Linked DNA regions of Homo sapiens. The protein of the gene in region 1 interacts with the protein of each later gene in a pairwise test. Each region holds a gene or a part of one and is shown on either strand. Other genes may lie near its edges.

Region 1 (7,590 bases):
ATATACCCTCAAGGATAAATTCTCCTAAATGTACTCACTTGAGACTTGAGATCACATCTATTTCTATAGGAGATTAAGGAGTTGATAAAATACCTCCGTTGAGGGAATCTTGGGTTCTCATCACATATTTCCAGAAAAACATGCTTCATGGATCCTGAAATATAAAAGATCCTCTTCTGATAAAATTAAGATTGTAGTTTTGAATGAATGAATGAATGAAGTTTGGTCAATAAATATCTGCTTATTAAATACTTAAGTGTCTATTCTAGTTGGAAAGACAAGATCAGCACAAAAAATTGTATGAGTCAAGTAAAGGACCCATTTAAAGGGTTTGAACTTGCTTGAAATTGCTTGAAAAAATACTATGGTTATTAAGTGCTAGATTGAATGACATAGTCAACACTGTTCAATAGAAATGTAATACAAGTTACATATGTAGTTTAAAATTTTCTAGGAGCCACATTAAAATACGTTAAAAGAAACAGGTGAAATTATTTTAATAATATTTAATCTAGTATATCAAAAATATTATTTCAATATGCTCTCAACATAAACAAATGAAATATTTTACTTTTTTAAATGAAAGTCTTCAAAATCCAAGGTGTATCTAGTCTCAAGAGCCCAGTTAGCCCATGTGGCTCATATGCTCAGTAACTACATGTGGCTGCTGTATAGAATAGTGCAAATAAAGACTATGTGAGGATAAGTATTGTTTGAAACTTGAACTTAGTGAATTCTCTTTTACAGCAAAGAGTTAAGATCTCTAGTATACTGTCTTGACTCAAGGTTGAGATATAGTGTTGAATAAATTATTTCTGATGTGGCTGAGCTATAGCCTTGAATTCCATAGCTTATCACTTTTGGTTTTCTAATATTTGTATTATTTGAGTAATTTCAAAGAACTAGAGAAAAGTATTGATGTGTTGATTTTATCTCTTTGATTTTCTTGAAATGTAAATATTATATGTATTTAAATTCAAGTGAATGTTTAAGATTAAATAGTGTATGTCTGTATACCTGTATGTATCTATGTGTACACATAGTCACTATTGTTACTGTTATGATAAAGGAATATACTTGCATAGGCATGTGACTTACTTGTCCCTATTCAAATGCAGAAAAATATTTGCTTCTTTCAGTCTAGTACAGTGTCACATATTTTTACTTTTTTTTTTTTTGAGACAGAGTCTCGCTCTGTCACCCAGGCTGGAGTGCAGTGGCTCAATCTCGGCCCACTGCAACCTCCACCTCCTAGGTTCAAGCAATTCTCATGCCTCAACCTCCCAAGCATCTGGGACTACAGGCACCTGCCACCCTGCCTGGCTAATTTTTGTATTTTTAGTAGAAACGGGGTTTTGCCATATTGGCCAGGATGGTCTCGAACTCCTGACCTCAGGTGATCTGCCCACCTCGGCCTCCCGAAGTGTTGGGATTACAGACGTGAGCCACTGTGCCCAGCCTACTTATTTTTTTTTATTACCAAAATAATACTGTTTGTTTTACAATATATTTTCAGGGTTCAATATGTAAGGGAACATTCTCTAGTATCTGAACTTTAGAACCTGGACCCTACCTAGGAAGATTAGCAAGTACACACCACTGAGGAAGGACTTTAAAGAAATATTTAGCTATTTTCAGAAAAAAGGCTCCAGTACTTCAGAATTTATAATAAAGATGTGTGTTCCAAATGTTGTAACTGTTCCATTAAAAGTGATGCTAATGAATCATAGAATCAGTTTAATTTCACTAAACTTAGTTTTTACTATTTTCAAAGCTATACAAACAAATCAATATGAAATTACATCATGTTTTTGCATTTTATCATGGTTCTCATCACTTCCTCTATATAAATGAAGAGAAGAAGCAGTAAAATTCAAATTTTCCTGAATACTTTTGTGTCCAGTGACATTCATTTCGATTCTTTCCAGATACCCTCTTTCAGCAGACACTTGATCAGCGTTTACTGCCTAAGGCTGAGAAGAAACTAGCTGCTCTGTCTAGCTCATTGTACATGTACAACTGTCCTCTAGCTTTGAGATCAGTAGCCAGGGCCTTTCGGTAATCAGCAGCTTACAGTTAAGGGGAAGGGGCAGAGAAGTTTGGTATTTACTCTTGACTTGGAGAAATAATGTGCCTCTAGCATTAATAAGAAATAGCTAAAAGAGTGAAAAGAAAAGTCTGAATACAAGAACAAAGTCAAAGTTCTTTCTTTGAATATGAAAAGAGAAGGGGAGGAAAAAGGAAGAAAGGAAACTGGTTTAGGGGATGGGAAAAATTGCTGTCATTTTAGTATCAAATGAATGAAAAAGTTTTTTAAATATCAGGAAGGAGAGAAAACTGAGGGTTAGAATTTTACTATAATGCTGGGTATAACACAGAACCAAGTAAATTACGGGAGAATTGCATAAATAATAGCAGAGGTTTTGGCATTAGGCATATCTGACCTGAATCCTGACCTGATGAAGCCACTTATTCATCTAGTTACTTAATCCTTTGGGTTGTTTCTATTCTGCATAATTGTGATAATAATAATTGTGAGGAGAATTAAATGAGATTTTTTTAAGGAACTTGGTAAGCATTTAATAAATGTAATTTAGTTATTTATTTCCATAGACTTTCCCATTCTTAATACTGGTGCCATAGTGGGGCCAGGCACAGTGGCTCATGCCAGTAATCCTAGCACTTTGGAAGGCCCAGGCGGGTGGATTGCCTGAGCTCCATCCAGCCTGGGCAACTTGGTGAAACCCCATCTCTACTAAAACACAAAAAATTAGCTGGTTGTGGTAATGTGTGTGTGTAGTCCCAGTACTCAGGAGGCTGTGGCATGAGAATTGCTTGAACCTGGGAGGAGGAGGTTGCAGTGAGCCAAGATTGCACCACTGCATTCTAGCTTAGGTGACGGAGTGAGACTGTCTCAAAAAAAAAAAAAAAAAAATGCTGCCATAGTGGATTAAGATGATGACAAAGAACTCCATTGGAAGGGTGGATTTTCTATTTATTCTACTATGAATTTTGGTGGATTTAACTACTAATGTGGTAAAACTGAGAACATAGAGAATGTCAGCATAAGACTTTATGACATTTTACTAACTGATAAAAGCTCCCCCTAAAATTTGCTATAGTAGTGAAAAGTTCTCATATAAGCTGTATTTAATCTGCCTCAGATATTAAAGCTATTGGTTTCAGAAATTATTCAAAATTGAGAATAACAGAATTACAGGATAAACTTTAGCCACATTCTTTTGAAGGCTGATTATGTAAGTAAAAGATATGATTTATCTGTAGCAGTTTTAGTTTTTTGAAGGTGGCATAGTGATGACCATTTAGCATCTTTGGAGTGTCAAGCACAGAATAGATGTTCAACAGTTATTTGCCTGAGAAATTGAGACTGAGATTGGAGTACTTAACCCACACAAGCTAGTTTGCTTTGTTCTCTTCCATAATTATAGATGTCACTCTTCGATCTACTGCAGATTAGTATCCTTAGTCACCAGGAAAGTTGAGACAAGGCACCTATCATGACATCATCTAAAAGAATGTGCATGTGCTTTATTGACAGGACATCAGTAGCAATATCTTTTATAAAGATACTATCTCAAAGCTTTTATAAAGAATAACACATTATTATAACTAAAGTTAACTGTGGTGAAGCCTGAAAATCAGATCATTTATCCATGGACAGATGTTTAAATTTCATCAAAGTGACTGCCAGACATTTTTGGATCATGTTGTCGGATTAGCCTAATTTTGTACTTCAGAAACATAGAAGGAATCTTTTGTTGGCGGATAGGTTTTTAGAAATTACCAAAGTTTAAATCATTTATTTTACTGATAAGGAAACATTTATATTTAAAACAAGTAAATATAAACCACATACATAGAATGTTTTTACTTCTTCATAAAATAATTTTTTATTTTCTTTATAAATAGTGAGCTATAATAGATTGATTTTAAGGTATGCAGAATAAAGTTTAGAAGAGCCCAGTGATAATACTAGCAACAAAGTAGTGTGTTGGAATACATATTGCTTCATTACATATTACATTATTAAGTGTTATTTTGGTAGTGTTTATAGAGAGCTTTGAGATAAATAGCCTTATCTGACACAATGCAACGTTGTGGTGCCACTGCAATTGTTATTAGGCAATTTTGCAAATGATACTGTGGGAGTGAAGAGAAGAATTGAATAAATGTGAAAATGAGAATAATTTGGACTAGAAACTATAGTGTTTATGATAAATTAGTCTCCAGAAGGTATAAATAATAGGTAATATAAACTCAAAACAGGGAAGGAATCACTTGGAGTTTTGTAAATTTAATACGTTTGTTGGACTTACAGACAAGAAATAAAAGTCTCTATAAGATGTATTTTAATTTTGTTTATATTTAAATTTTGAGTTTTTAAAGAGATAGCAGTACCCAGTTATCTATCAGTTAAGAAATCTGGGTGTTTAAGAAAGTTTGGGTTCCTTCCATTAAAAGGGAGATTTATAAGACTTGGCTTTTGCTTGGCTTTTTCATTTTTTTAAATATCCATTTTTAAGCATATTTTATATTATGGTTCTTCTTTATTTTCAACATTTTACTGTCAAATTCTTTTGCCTTAAGGGAAGATTTATAAAATACTCTATTCTTCAGTGCATTTATATATTATGTCTCTTCCACTGGACCTGTTACTATCTTGTAACTGTTTACAGTGGTCAAGGTTTTTTTTTTTTAATTTGAAACATATTGCTGTGGGGAAATTTCTTCTTCCTGAAATGAGCTCACCTCTATTGCCACACAATAAAAGAATTCTCAGCTTTTGAGAGCTCTGGCTTCCTTATGAAATATGGATAGACTTCTGCTTCTGAAGTGTTTTAGGTTTTTTTCTTTAGATAAGGAAGAAGAGGAATAAATAGTATGAGGTGTGTTTCTTCTTTTAAGACACAGGAATATCTATATCAGATAAATGAGAAGAAAATTAAGAAACTTTAAAGCTCTAAATGAGAGAGCTCATTAGAAATTAGCTACTTGGATGATGAAAATTTCTTCATCATCTACACTTAAAGGCATTTATGGTTTTTATACTACTTAGATACTTGATTTTGCAATTAGTATTTCTTTAGAATGTTTGTCCCTGATAGCTCCATCACATGGACTGTTATTCCTGAACACTCTGTTGTATTCTCCATGAAAAAATATTTTAGGAGAAAAGATAGAAAACTCAGCAATTATTTCAAGATAATTGTTGAGGACTTCCCTTGTTTCTTTTAAAAGCATAGCCTTTTGTTAGCCAGGTAGATTTATCTTTTCTTTAACATCTTCGATCAAGTAATACTTGAGGGAAATATTCTGTAGAAAGACATCCATTGAAGGCCAGAAACATCTACAGATGCAATGTGATCCCAAGCAATGAAGCATGTGGCCCTTCATTGGCATTATATGATAACAGGAGGATCTTCTGGCAGAAGAAGTGACTTTTGCTGCGTTCTGCATGCTGCCCCTCCAAACCCATCTTTGATTGGCACCTATGCCCTATTGAAACTGGCATCACACCTTCTGAATGGGCACAGTGCCAGGCTAGCAGATGGGTATGGGCAAAAGCATGCCAGAAACCCAGTATGTGAATCAAGTTTAAGTATCAGGGGCCCAAATTCCCATCCAGGGATATAAAAACTACAGTCTGTTGAGAGCTTTTTGTGCTTAAGGTTAAAGGACATGCCATTTCTACTCCAACTTAGAAGTTGATTAATTTTGAAAGTCAAACAGCAGCTCCTGTGGCTGTGTCAGGCAAAATCCTGTCTTTGGTGAATGAGAATTACTACTTCGTGTAGGGAAGAGAAAGTATTGTAATGAAGTTTCCAATGAGAGTTACTCTCCTGCAAGTGCCTCCAGCACTTAAGCAGCATGCATTCAGTGGAGATGAATATTTCTGTTCTCCAGCAGAGCCAGGTGCAATCAAAGCCAGATCTTCAACCTGCTGCAGTAAAGAACCCTAAATTTAGAAAGGGCAGGCAAAGTTTAGAAGAACTCCTTGGTGGCAGGCAGCTCTTTTCACTATGAGCTGATGAAGCTTCACAAAATTGTATAAAGGAGATGAAGGGAAAACTCCAAATAAAAGACCTTCAGAAAATTTCATCCAGAAACAGAAAGATTTTTAACAAACCAAAGGAAAAAGTTTAGTCCTTTCTCCTCAATGCAGAAAATCTTCTGAGTTTTCTATCAATAAAAACTTAGTTAACCAAAATGTTAGAACCAACTTAATGCATAAGTGACAAAACTTTCTATTTTTACATTTATTTCATTGCATGTCTATCATGTATATAAACTTTGCTTCTTGAATAATGGATTTTGCATAAAATTGAGAACTCTAAACATCATATTTCCTTCTGATTGTCTCACACCCACTACAGAACTCCCCTCCCCCACCCCCTAAAAGAGGGCACGCTTCCTTCTGATCACTTTAATCATATCTTCTAAATGCTCTAAAATTTACAGGAATGCCTGTAAGACCAGCTGTGGCCAAGAGAAGCTTTTCCTAATCGCCTTATAGCCGTTGCTTTTGCTTTTTCACTGTGTAAACTTTATCTATGGAACAGATTCCATGAGACCGTTGTGAATACTTCAACGTATTCAAAACATATAACTGCCACAAATTAAACTACTAAAACTAAAGCTGGTGCATTGTAACTGCCAAGTAAAACTGGCACGTCCCTCTGTCAGACTGCAGGAGAGTGTGCCATACAGTCCTCGGAAAACACAATTCATCCAGAAGCACTCTTGTCACTTGCTCTGATATTAAACCAGAGAAAGTGACATTAATTAAAGAAGTGACATGAGCCAACAAAGGCAATGAATTCTCAGCTTTGGCTCATGTGCAGACCTTAATCCAACCTGTTCTGCTTAGGTAGTGTGGCTATTTCTGAAGAGTAACTAGTGTGGCTACTCACCCCACTTCCTCTCATCTTCCCATTCTGCATCACGTGTTTGAGGAACTAACATTTTATATCCAGGGTTGGACTGGTTAATTGGTACACTGGTAGTCATTGCAGGGCTTCCCAAAATAGTAGTGTGGTGGCATGTGATGCTTTTATTGTACTTGGTAATAGTGTGAGATGTACAACTAGAGGTAGAGGAGAGTTGGTCTAACGAAAAGGCAAGCAACAGCCAAACAGCAGAATACCTAGACTTGGTAGACTGGAAGCGAGGAGGGTCTGCTGCTAGGACTGGTTGTGGAAACAAATGGTGGCTTGGTAGGCTTTATGAAAATTCTGAAATGCTAAAGAGGCATGCTGGGGAGTGTTCATAACTTCTCTCTTTCTTTGTTCCGATGGTGTGCTTTCACACAATGCTCACCTCATTATTTCAGACGGTCACTATTTTGTATGCTGTCTTTTTAACCTGTTTCCCCCAACATGTGTGCACACAGACACTACATTATAAACTGCTTTCAGGCAGTCACTCACAGTGCTTAATATGGCCTTGCATGTTATAGTTCTTAAAAAATGATGTGTTAAATTAACTCTAGAACTGTTCTATTATGATTTTCCCAATAAATAGGTTGTATGAGACAAAAAAATTCCATGCTCTATCCTATATGTGACCTGC
Region 2 (7,981 bases), on another chromosome or scaffold:
CTGGCTTGTGTCACCCACCTGTATGAAATGAGAGGCAGCTGCAGAAGTACCTTTCCCTAAAATCCAGATTTACTGAACCCATAAAGTAGGGGGTTAAGTTTCCCTAGCAAGGGTCCAGTAGGGGTTAAGTTTCCCTAGTGGTGGCCTGTGCCATAAATGCTACTGGACCCTCACTAGGGGCAGCTGCCAGGCAGACTCTTTTCGTAGTATCAGCACGGACTGACAGACAAAATGCTGCAGGTGTGAGCAGTCTCGTTCCTATTTTACAGACAGGAGAGCTTGAGATTCAGAAGTCATGGGACTTGCCTAAGGTCACACAGACAGAACCCAGGCCCAGTATGAAAGCCATGGGGCTTCCTATTCACCACGCTGCTCCTATGGCAAAGATTCTTCTAATAAACTTAACCCCTATGTTATGGGTTCAGTAAATCTGGATTTTAGAACCATTCTTAAAGAGGGTTATTCTTAAACCAGGGTAGTATAAAAACAATCACAAACATTTGATTTCACCCAACCAAGTCTCCTTCTCTAACCTAGAGAATTTCGAGCTTCCAGAGCCCTCAGAGATCCACTCCAGCCTCCTTGTTTTGCAGGTGAGGAGGCTGAGGCCTCCGGGATGAAGTGACTCATCTAAACTAGCTGGTGGCAGCCCCATGGAACTCACTCCAGGGGTCTAAATTCCCATCCCCCAAAACAACCCAGGCCCTGCCTTTTCAGGAAGTGGAGTGAACCCGAATCCACATCACGGTGGGAAGAACAGGGAGCTGCAGATCCCCTGTGGGCCTTTGGATGGGTTCTCTGCTGCCAGGGATGATCGTCTAAACAAACACTCAGGAGGGAAGCCACTGAATAAACCAGCTCCAACACTTAAATAGCTGGATGCTCTGGGGTGTCATGAACGCCACACTGCCATCAAAATGAGGGACTCCGGAAGTTAGGGTAGGACAAAAGGCCATTCCAGAGAATGCACAGCAAGTGGTTCTCCTATATACACACTCTGGAAGCCAGGAGCACTTCAGAGCAACGTGGGGACAATCCCACAGAGGCCAACACAGAGAGCATTCTCCAAGCCCAGCAACACCGAAGTCCAACCACGCACACTCTGCCAGACAGCGACCCCTCCTCCCGGAACTGAGCCTCACAGGCCCCCTATTGTTGTCAGCTTAAAAACTGAACTTTGCTGAGCAAACACACTCAGCTGTGTTCAAAAAATCAGTTTCTCTCAATACTTGGAAAACTGCAGCATGCATGCAGAAAGGCCAGTTGTAGGGGGTTTTGTTTGTTTTTTAAGCAAAGCCTTGGTCAGTACAGCTTTAGCCAACTGTAATAAAAAATAATAATACCCAGCACTGACTGTATTCTTCCAATGTCCTGTGGTTTTATAGCTTTTAAGAAAATAAAACTGAGGGAGAGTCACCCCCGAGCATTTGGAATCAAACAAGGATTCGGCTTTGTGGCATGCCTGGAGGAAGGATTGGTCTTGTAATAATTACCGCGATCACAGAGGGCCTTATGACAGCTGGCAGAGGCAATTAGCAATAAGGGGCGGGGGGAGGGTTTGGGGGAGGAGAAATTGAGGATCTAATAAAACAAAACATCCCCAGACCTGCAGGAGGCCAGATGTGGCAGGGCAAGATGGTGAGAGGTTCCTTCTTCAAGACGGGGCAGCTATTAACTGGTCTGACGTTTCACCGCCCCGTCCCTGGCCAAAATCACATTCAGAATCCACTAGTTGCCCTCATTTGTGTATGGACAGGGTGCCCCAACAACCCTCGGGCTGGTTTTTCCAAATCCTTCAGATACTTCCCCAGCTATAATTTGAGAGAGGAAGGCCCGCATATCTTATTTCTTCTTTACACTCCAGACTGTCTCCATCAGAACCCTTTAAACAGTTTCATCTTCCCACCAAAGGCTTGCTTCCCAGCATAATCCTTCCTAAGCCTAAATCCAATCTTTGGGGGGAAGCAGGGGGAGTCAGCGGGTAATTATTAATACATTTTAAGCAGCGAGCCTCCGTGGCAACGTGAAAGGAAAGCACCAAACGCCTGAATAACAAAAATGCAGTTTCAGCAACACTTTTTGAAAAGGCGGCAGACAAGACCTGAGAGGAGAGGAAAGGAAGGGACAGGACGGCGTCTGGGGCGTGAGGGGAACAGGGGACGGCAGGCCTGCGATCACGCTTCAGGGGAACCTCCTCCGTCACCCTGGCCCACGGGTGCTCGGCTCAGTCACACGGGGAAAAGTCCAGCTTGTGACTCGGTGGGACAACGAGTCCTGCGGCCCCGCAAACTGGAAATGGGGTGGGGGCGGAGAAGGGGGGAAAGGGGATGTCCGCGCGCAGCCCACCCCGCACGGGCCCCTCGAGCCTCCATCCCAGTTCCCACGACGCACCCGCCCCACAAATCCTGCCCAAGATGAGGGCTGGTCCCGGGTCCTCCGGCTGCCGCATCAGCGAGTGCAGGAGGGAGGGGAAGCCTCCAAGGGGGGCGACGCGGGCTCAAGGATGCAACTCGGCCAGGAGTACTGGGGCCCGGAGGGAGGTGTCCGGGCCCGCTCCTCGAGCCCAGCCTGGTCCCCGACCCACTTACCTCCAGGGTCCGTATCTCCTGCTGGGTGAGGTCGTTGGACACAGCGCACTTGGTGCGCAGCCCGCGCAGGCTGCCGATGGAGATGTCGATGAGCTTCTGGAGCTGCCCGCACTGCTGCAGCGCCCGGCTGGCCGCGGCCCCTGCGCCTCCCTCCGCGGCCGCCGCATCCCCCCCGCCACCGCCCTCCTTCTTCTCTCCCATCGCCGCCGCGCGCAGCGCTGCTCTATCCATGCCTCGGCATCGGGGCCGCGGCGGCCGAGGCTGGGAGCCCGGGGCGCGGGCGCCTCGGCAAGGAACCCCCGAGCCAGGAGAGCTGGACCAGGAGCGCCCCTCGGCGCTGCCCGAGCCGGGACGCCGGTAGAGCCGGCCGCTGAGTCTGCCGCTTCCACCCTCCCAGCCGCGGCAGCAAAGCGAAAGCCGCGGCGACCCGACGGCTGCGGCTCCCGGAGCCTTTAAGCGGCGGCGGGGGCTGGGTCAGGGCGGCCGGGCATGCTGGGACTTGTAGTCCACGCCGCGCACCTGCCGCCGGCCTCCGCCCTCGGGGCCCCGGACCGCGCCCGCGCCGCCCTCCCTGCCCTCCTCTCCCCTCCCCTCCCGGCGGCCGCGGCGAGGCAGGCGGTGAGGGCCGGCCCCAACCGGGAGCCCCGGGTGGAGCTGCTCCGCGCCAGCTCCTCCCCCAGGCGCCGAGAGTCGGGGGAGCAGCGTCTCCCCGTCCGCCTCCGTCCCCCACCCGGCCTAGGAGCTTCCCGCGACCCCCGGATGGGGCGGCGCCCCCTGGACGCCCGGCGGGTGTGCGTCCCGCAGTTCCTCAGCTGCAGCCCAGCCCTGGAAGATGGGGACCAGGGAGGTTCCAGGATTTGTATGTGGGTTTAGGGGCTGCCATCTAGTGGGAAGGGGCTTACAGCACTTCTGTAGCTGGCTCACAAAGCGCTCTACTCTGGACTGCCTGCGCCAAAACGATTGCTCAGGCTTGGAGAAAGACGAAGAGCTTTCTTCTGAACCACATTTACCTGCCAAAATAAGTGTCCCATTCCCCCGCCATTCCCAGCCCACCAAGCCAGCCCAGACACGGGGGACAGCACACTGAATTGTCGGTGGCTTCGGAGCAAGTGGCCAGGATTCAAATTCTGACTCCACCACGGTCTAGGGTGAGACTTTGGGCACGTTCGATTTCCAGTGAATGCCCGACTCTCCTCATCAAATAACTCTTTAATAGGGTTCCTATGAAGAATCAGTTAATACATGTACAGCACCTAGATTGATTACTGGCACATGTGGTCGCTGGATAAATGTTAGCAATTCTTACTATCTAACCTCAGATCTGAATGTGGCCCTGGACCCAGGTAGTGGCCATGGAGCAGTACAGTACTGCCAAGGACTGGTAGTCCTTTGTCCTCTGTGCATTTCTGTGCCTCCTAACCCAGCAATCAAGCCTTGCCCATCTGTTCACCCTCCTCTCCCATTAGTTCACCCCATGCGTTCTATTATCTGGCAAAACTGAAAAACCAAGTCTCTGATCAAAGCTCCCACACCTTCATGCTTTCGACATCTGTCAACCAGAAAAAATGTCTCCCCTCTCAATTTTCTCTTGTAAGCTGCTTGATTGCAGAAGCCACTAGCTATTGTACCCTCTTTATAGTGCCAGATACAGTGCATGGCACACAAGAAAGGCTCCAGCGTGCCTCAGGAGCTCTTTCAGCAGGTCCTATGGGATGTTTCTTTTACCTCTCAGGCCAGCCGAGGGTGTGTGTGTGTGTGTAGATAGACAGTTGTTTTTTTGGTTTTGTTTTTGTGTTTGAGGATGAGAATTGGACAGGAGGTGGGATCCAAACCTTGTAGACACTAAAACAATCAATAATGGATGGCAGTTTGTATTACACCTTCCTTTAATGTTTATATTACACCAGCCTTCGAAATAAATTAAGGGCTGGGCACCGTGGCTCATGCCTGTAATGCCAGCACTTTTGAGAGGCCAAGGGGGAAGGATCACTTAAAGCCAGGAGTTCGAGACCAGCCTGGGCAATGTGACAAGACCCTGTCTCTAAAAAAAATAATAAATTTTTAAAAATCAGGTCTAGGAAGCAAAACTATAACTTTAAAACTTGTTTTTGCAAATTAACCCCTCCTCGAGATTTTCCAAATGCAAGGAGGTTCCTCCCTAACCCCTGGCCTTTCCCATTGAGAGTCATTGATCCAGTCCTCACTCAACTTATAAAAAGACCGCCTGCACGATATTATGAATTTCTCAACCTGTTACCTTAACCCCATCCGACTCCTTGCAAAGTAGTAACTATTATGAAAGGGAAACTAGTTGTGGTTCTCAAACTTGAACATGCATCAGAATCACTTGGAGGGCTTGTTAATTCCCAGAACCATGGAGCTCACCTCTATAGTTTCTAATTTTGTAGATCAGAGGACAGGGCAGGAGAATCTGCATTTCTATCAGGTTCTCAGGTGGTACTGATGTGGTTAGTCTGAGCCCAGTCGCAAGTCTATACTTTGAGAAGCCTAGGCACAGAGGAAGGTCAGTGGGCAGAGAACTATCTCAAGGGACTATCCACAACCCAACCTGGCTGGTTCAGAGCCTCTGTCCAGCAGCCAGAGCTGCCAGGCTTGAACGACTCACTCATTCTAACACAATTCACAAAAGATTTTTTTTTTTTTGAAACAGGGTCTTGCTCTGTCACTCAGGCTGGAGTACAGTAGCATGATCATGGCTCAGTGCAGCCTCGACCTCCCAGACTCAGGCGATCCTCCCACCCCAGCTTCCCAAGTAGCTGGGACTATAGGAGTGTGCCACCATGCCCGGCTAACGTTAACTTTTTTTTTTTTTTCCTTTTTTTTAGAAATGGAGTCTCTCTACGTTGCCCAGGCTGCTGGTCTCAAACTCTCGGGCTCAAGCAATCCTTCCCCTTCAGCCTCCTGAAGTGCTGGGATTATAGGCGTGAACTACCATGCCTGGCTCACAAGAAATGTTCTGGTAAGTGCCTATTTATGCACTTACATCAAACTTGTTATTGCCACAGGGACCTGGTCATCACATTCTCCCTCTAGGGCCACTTTATGTGGGAAGCCACATCCTGAGAAGAGCCACTGCCAGCTTGTGGCATTCATGCCCACCCATGTCACCACAGGGGTGATGTCAGAGCCTGAGACTGGACAAATGCCAGCTCCCTGGTTACTCTCCCGCCAGGTTCCATGCAGCGAGTCTGTCCTCTGTGGATACAGTCTTCCCTCTGATTATCCAGAGCATTCAGCAGGCCACAGTTTTCCTTCCTCACAGATGGCCTCCAGCCTTCTTGCCTGGATTTGAGTCATCTGTCAGCCACAAGTTTACAGAACTGCCCCTCAGAGGTGGAGAAACTTTTTTGTTTTTGTTTTTTGTTTTTAAGAGACAGGGATTTGCTCTGTTGCCCAGGTTGGAGTGCAGTGGTGCGAGAAAGCTCACTGCAGCCTCAAAAGTCCTGGGCTCAAGCCATCCTCCTGCCTCAGCCTCCTGAGTAGCTGGGACTACAGGTGCCTGCCACCGCATCTGACTAATTTTTAAATTTTTTGTAGGGACAGGGTCTTGCTGTGTCATGTAGACTGGTCTCAAACTCCTGTTCTTGGCCTCACTCTCCCAAAAGTGCTAGGATTACAGGCATGAGCCATGGCACCTGGCCGAAATAAGGATTTTTAAATAATCCCTTCATTCATCCTTTTAACATTCAGTAAGCATTCATGAAGTGCCACTTACATGGCAGGCCCTGTTCTGGGCTCTGGAAAAGGGTAGTGAACAAAATGAAGATTCTTACCCTTAGGGAATTTATGCTGTGGTGAGAGGAAACAGACAAGCAGATAAATGCACAGTGTGTCAGTGGTAACAGGTGGTATGGCACTGCAGGGAAGGGGACAGGGAATATGGCCTTTACAACTTCGAATAGAGCTGTTTTAGAGAGTAGGGTAGTCAGCTCTGTCTCTGAATCGCTGTATGACCTTTGACGAGTCTTATATGACCTCGGGCAAATCTCCTAATCTGGTAGCACAGCTTCTTATTTGCAAGATGGTGATAATGTTTTATGAGGATGAACAGATTATATAACACAAAGTAATGGTCATAAAATAAGGGTTCGGCATATTTATTTATTTGATAAATATTTACTGTATGTCTACTGAAACTGTTCCAAATGCTTAACTCATTGAACTATGCATTACTTTCTTCCTCACCTTCCAGAATGAATCTCTTCTAGTTAGATGAATTGATCTATTATGTGTTGATTCAGGGTTTCAGCATCATCTCCAGGTTCTTGAGGCTTTTTCTGAGGCACCTCAGTAGAGAAAGTTTGCTTACTCTCTCCTTCCTCTCCTCTGTCTCGGGTCCCTTCATTGCTTTTCCGAGCTTGTCTGCATCCAAACACCAACAGCAGCGGTGGGAGCATTTTCATGCACAGGCCCAAGAAACATGAAGAGGACACTTAGCATGCGCCAGGCTCTGGGGTAGGCTCAAAGCGAAGGAAGCCGAGTCCTTATCCCTGTGGAACATACATGAAGGGAAGGACAGGAAATGAATGTCAACAAATATATTACCAAAATAAACTGAGAATCATAAGTGCTACGCAGAAGAAGAAGAAAGCAAATAGCCGAGAGTCTCTGGTGGCTAAGGTACTTCACTAGGTGAAGTGGACAGAGAATTATTATCTGACCATTGAACTAAGATGTAAATAAGGAAAAGCAAGCCATGTGGAATGTTCCAGGAAAGGAGCACTCCAGGCAGTGGGAACATCATGTGCAAAGGCCCTGAGGTAGGAGCAGCTTGGCATACTCCAGGAACAAAGTGAAGGCCAGAGAAGCCATAGCAAGATGAGGGAGAGGAGCAAGGGCTGGAGATGATGTGGGAGAGCTATGCAGGGGCCAGATAAAGTGGGACATGGGAAGGAAGTTTGGGTTTTTCTCCAAGCCTTTGTTACTCCTAATGCGGTCCAGGAGCAGCAGCAACTGTATGGCCTGGGAGCTTATTAGAAACGCAGTCTTGAGCCCAACCCCAGATAACTGAATCACAAACTGCATCTTAGCAAAATTCCCACATGACCCAAAAATAGATTAAATTTTTAGAAACACGGTACTCTAAGAAAGTCACGTTCTTTTCAGGTGGAGAGTTTTAAAGATCCCTCAGGCTGCCACATGGAGAGCCAATGGTAGGGAGGCAAGGGCACAGCCATGGCTCTGGTTTTGAGACAGCTGCGGTGGCCCAGGCCAGGTGGGGAGCAGGAACCGGGTGAGAGTGGAGGAGAGGGAGGAAATAGAGGGGATAGAGGACATGTTTTGGAGACAGAGTCAACAGGACAAGCAGATGGATTTAATGTCGAAGGAGGAAAAGAAGAATTCCGGCCATCCTGACCGTGTAGCCTCCACTC

Evidence for each region.
Region 2: the proteins of VRK2 (region 1) and KSR1 interact in binary tests that used the Homo sapiens proteins (3 or more experiments, as listed by UniProt).

Annotation. Positions count from the first base shown.
Region 1 is NC_000002.12:58,049,685-58,057,274, forward strand, and holds part of VRK2 (serine/threonine-protein kinase VRK2), read left to right. Parts: intron 1-7,590. UniProt on the Homo sapiens protein: Serine/threonine kinase that regulates several signal transduction pathways.
Region 2 is NC_000017.11:27,451,482-27,459,462, reverse strand, and holds the start of KSR1 (kinase suppressor of Ras 1), read right to left. Parts: upstream 3,016-7,981; 5' UTR 2,820-3,015; coding exon 2,589-2,819; intron 1-2,588.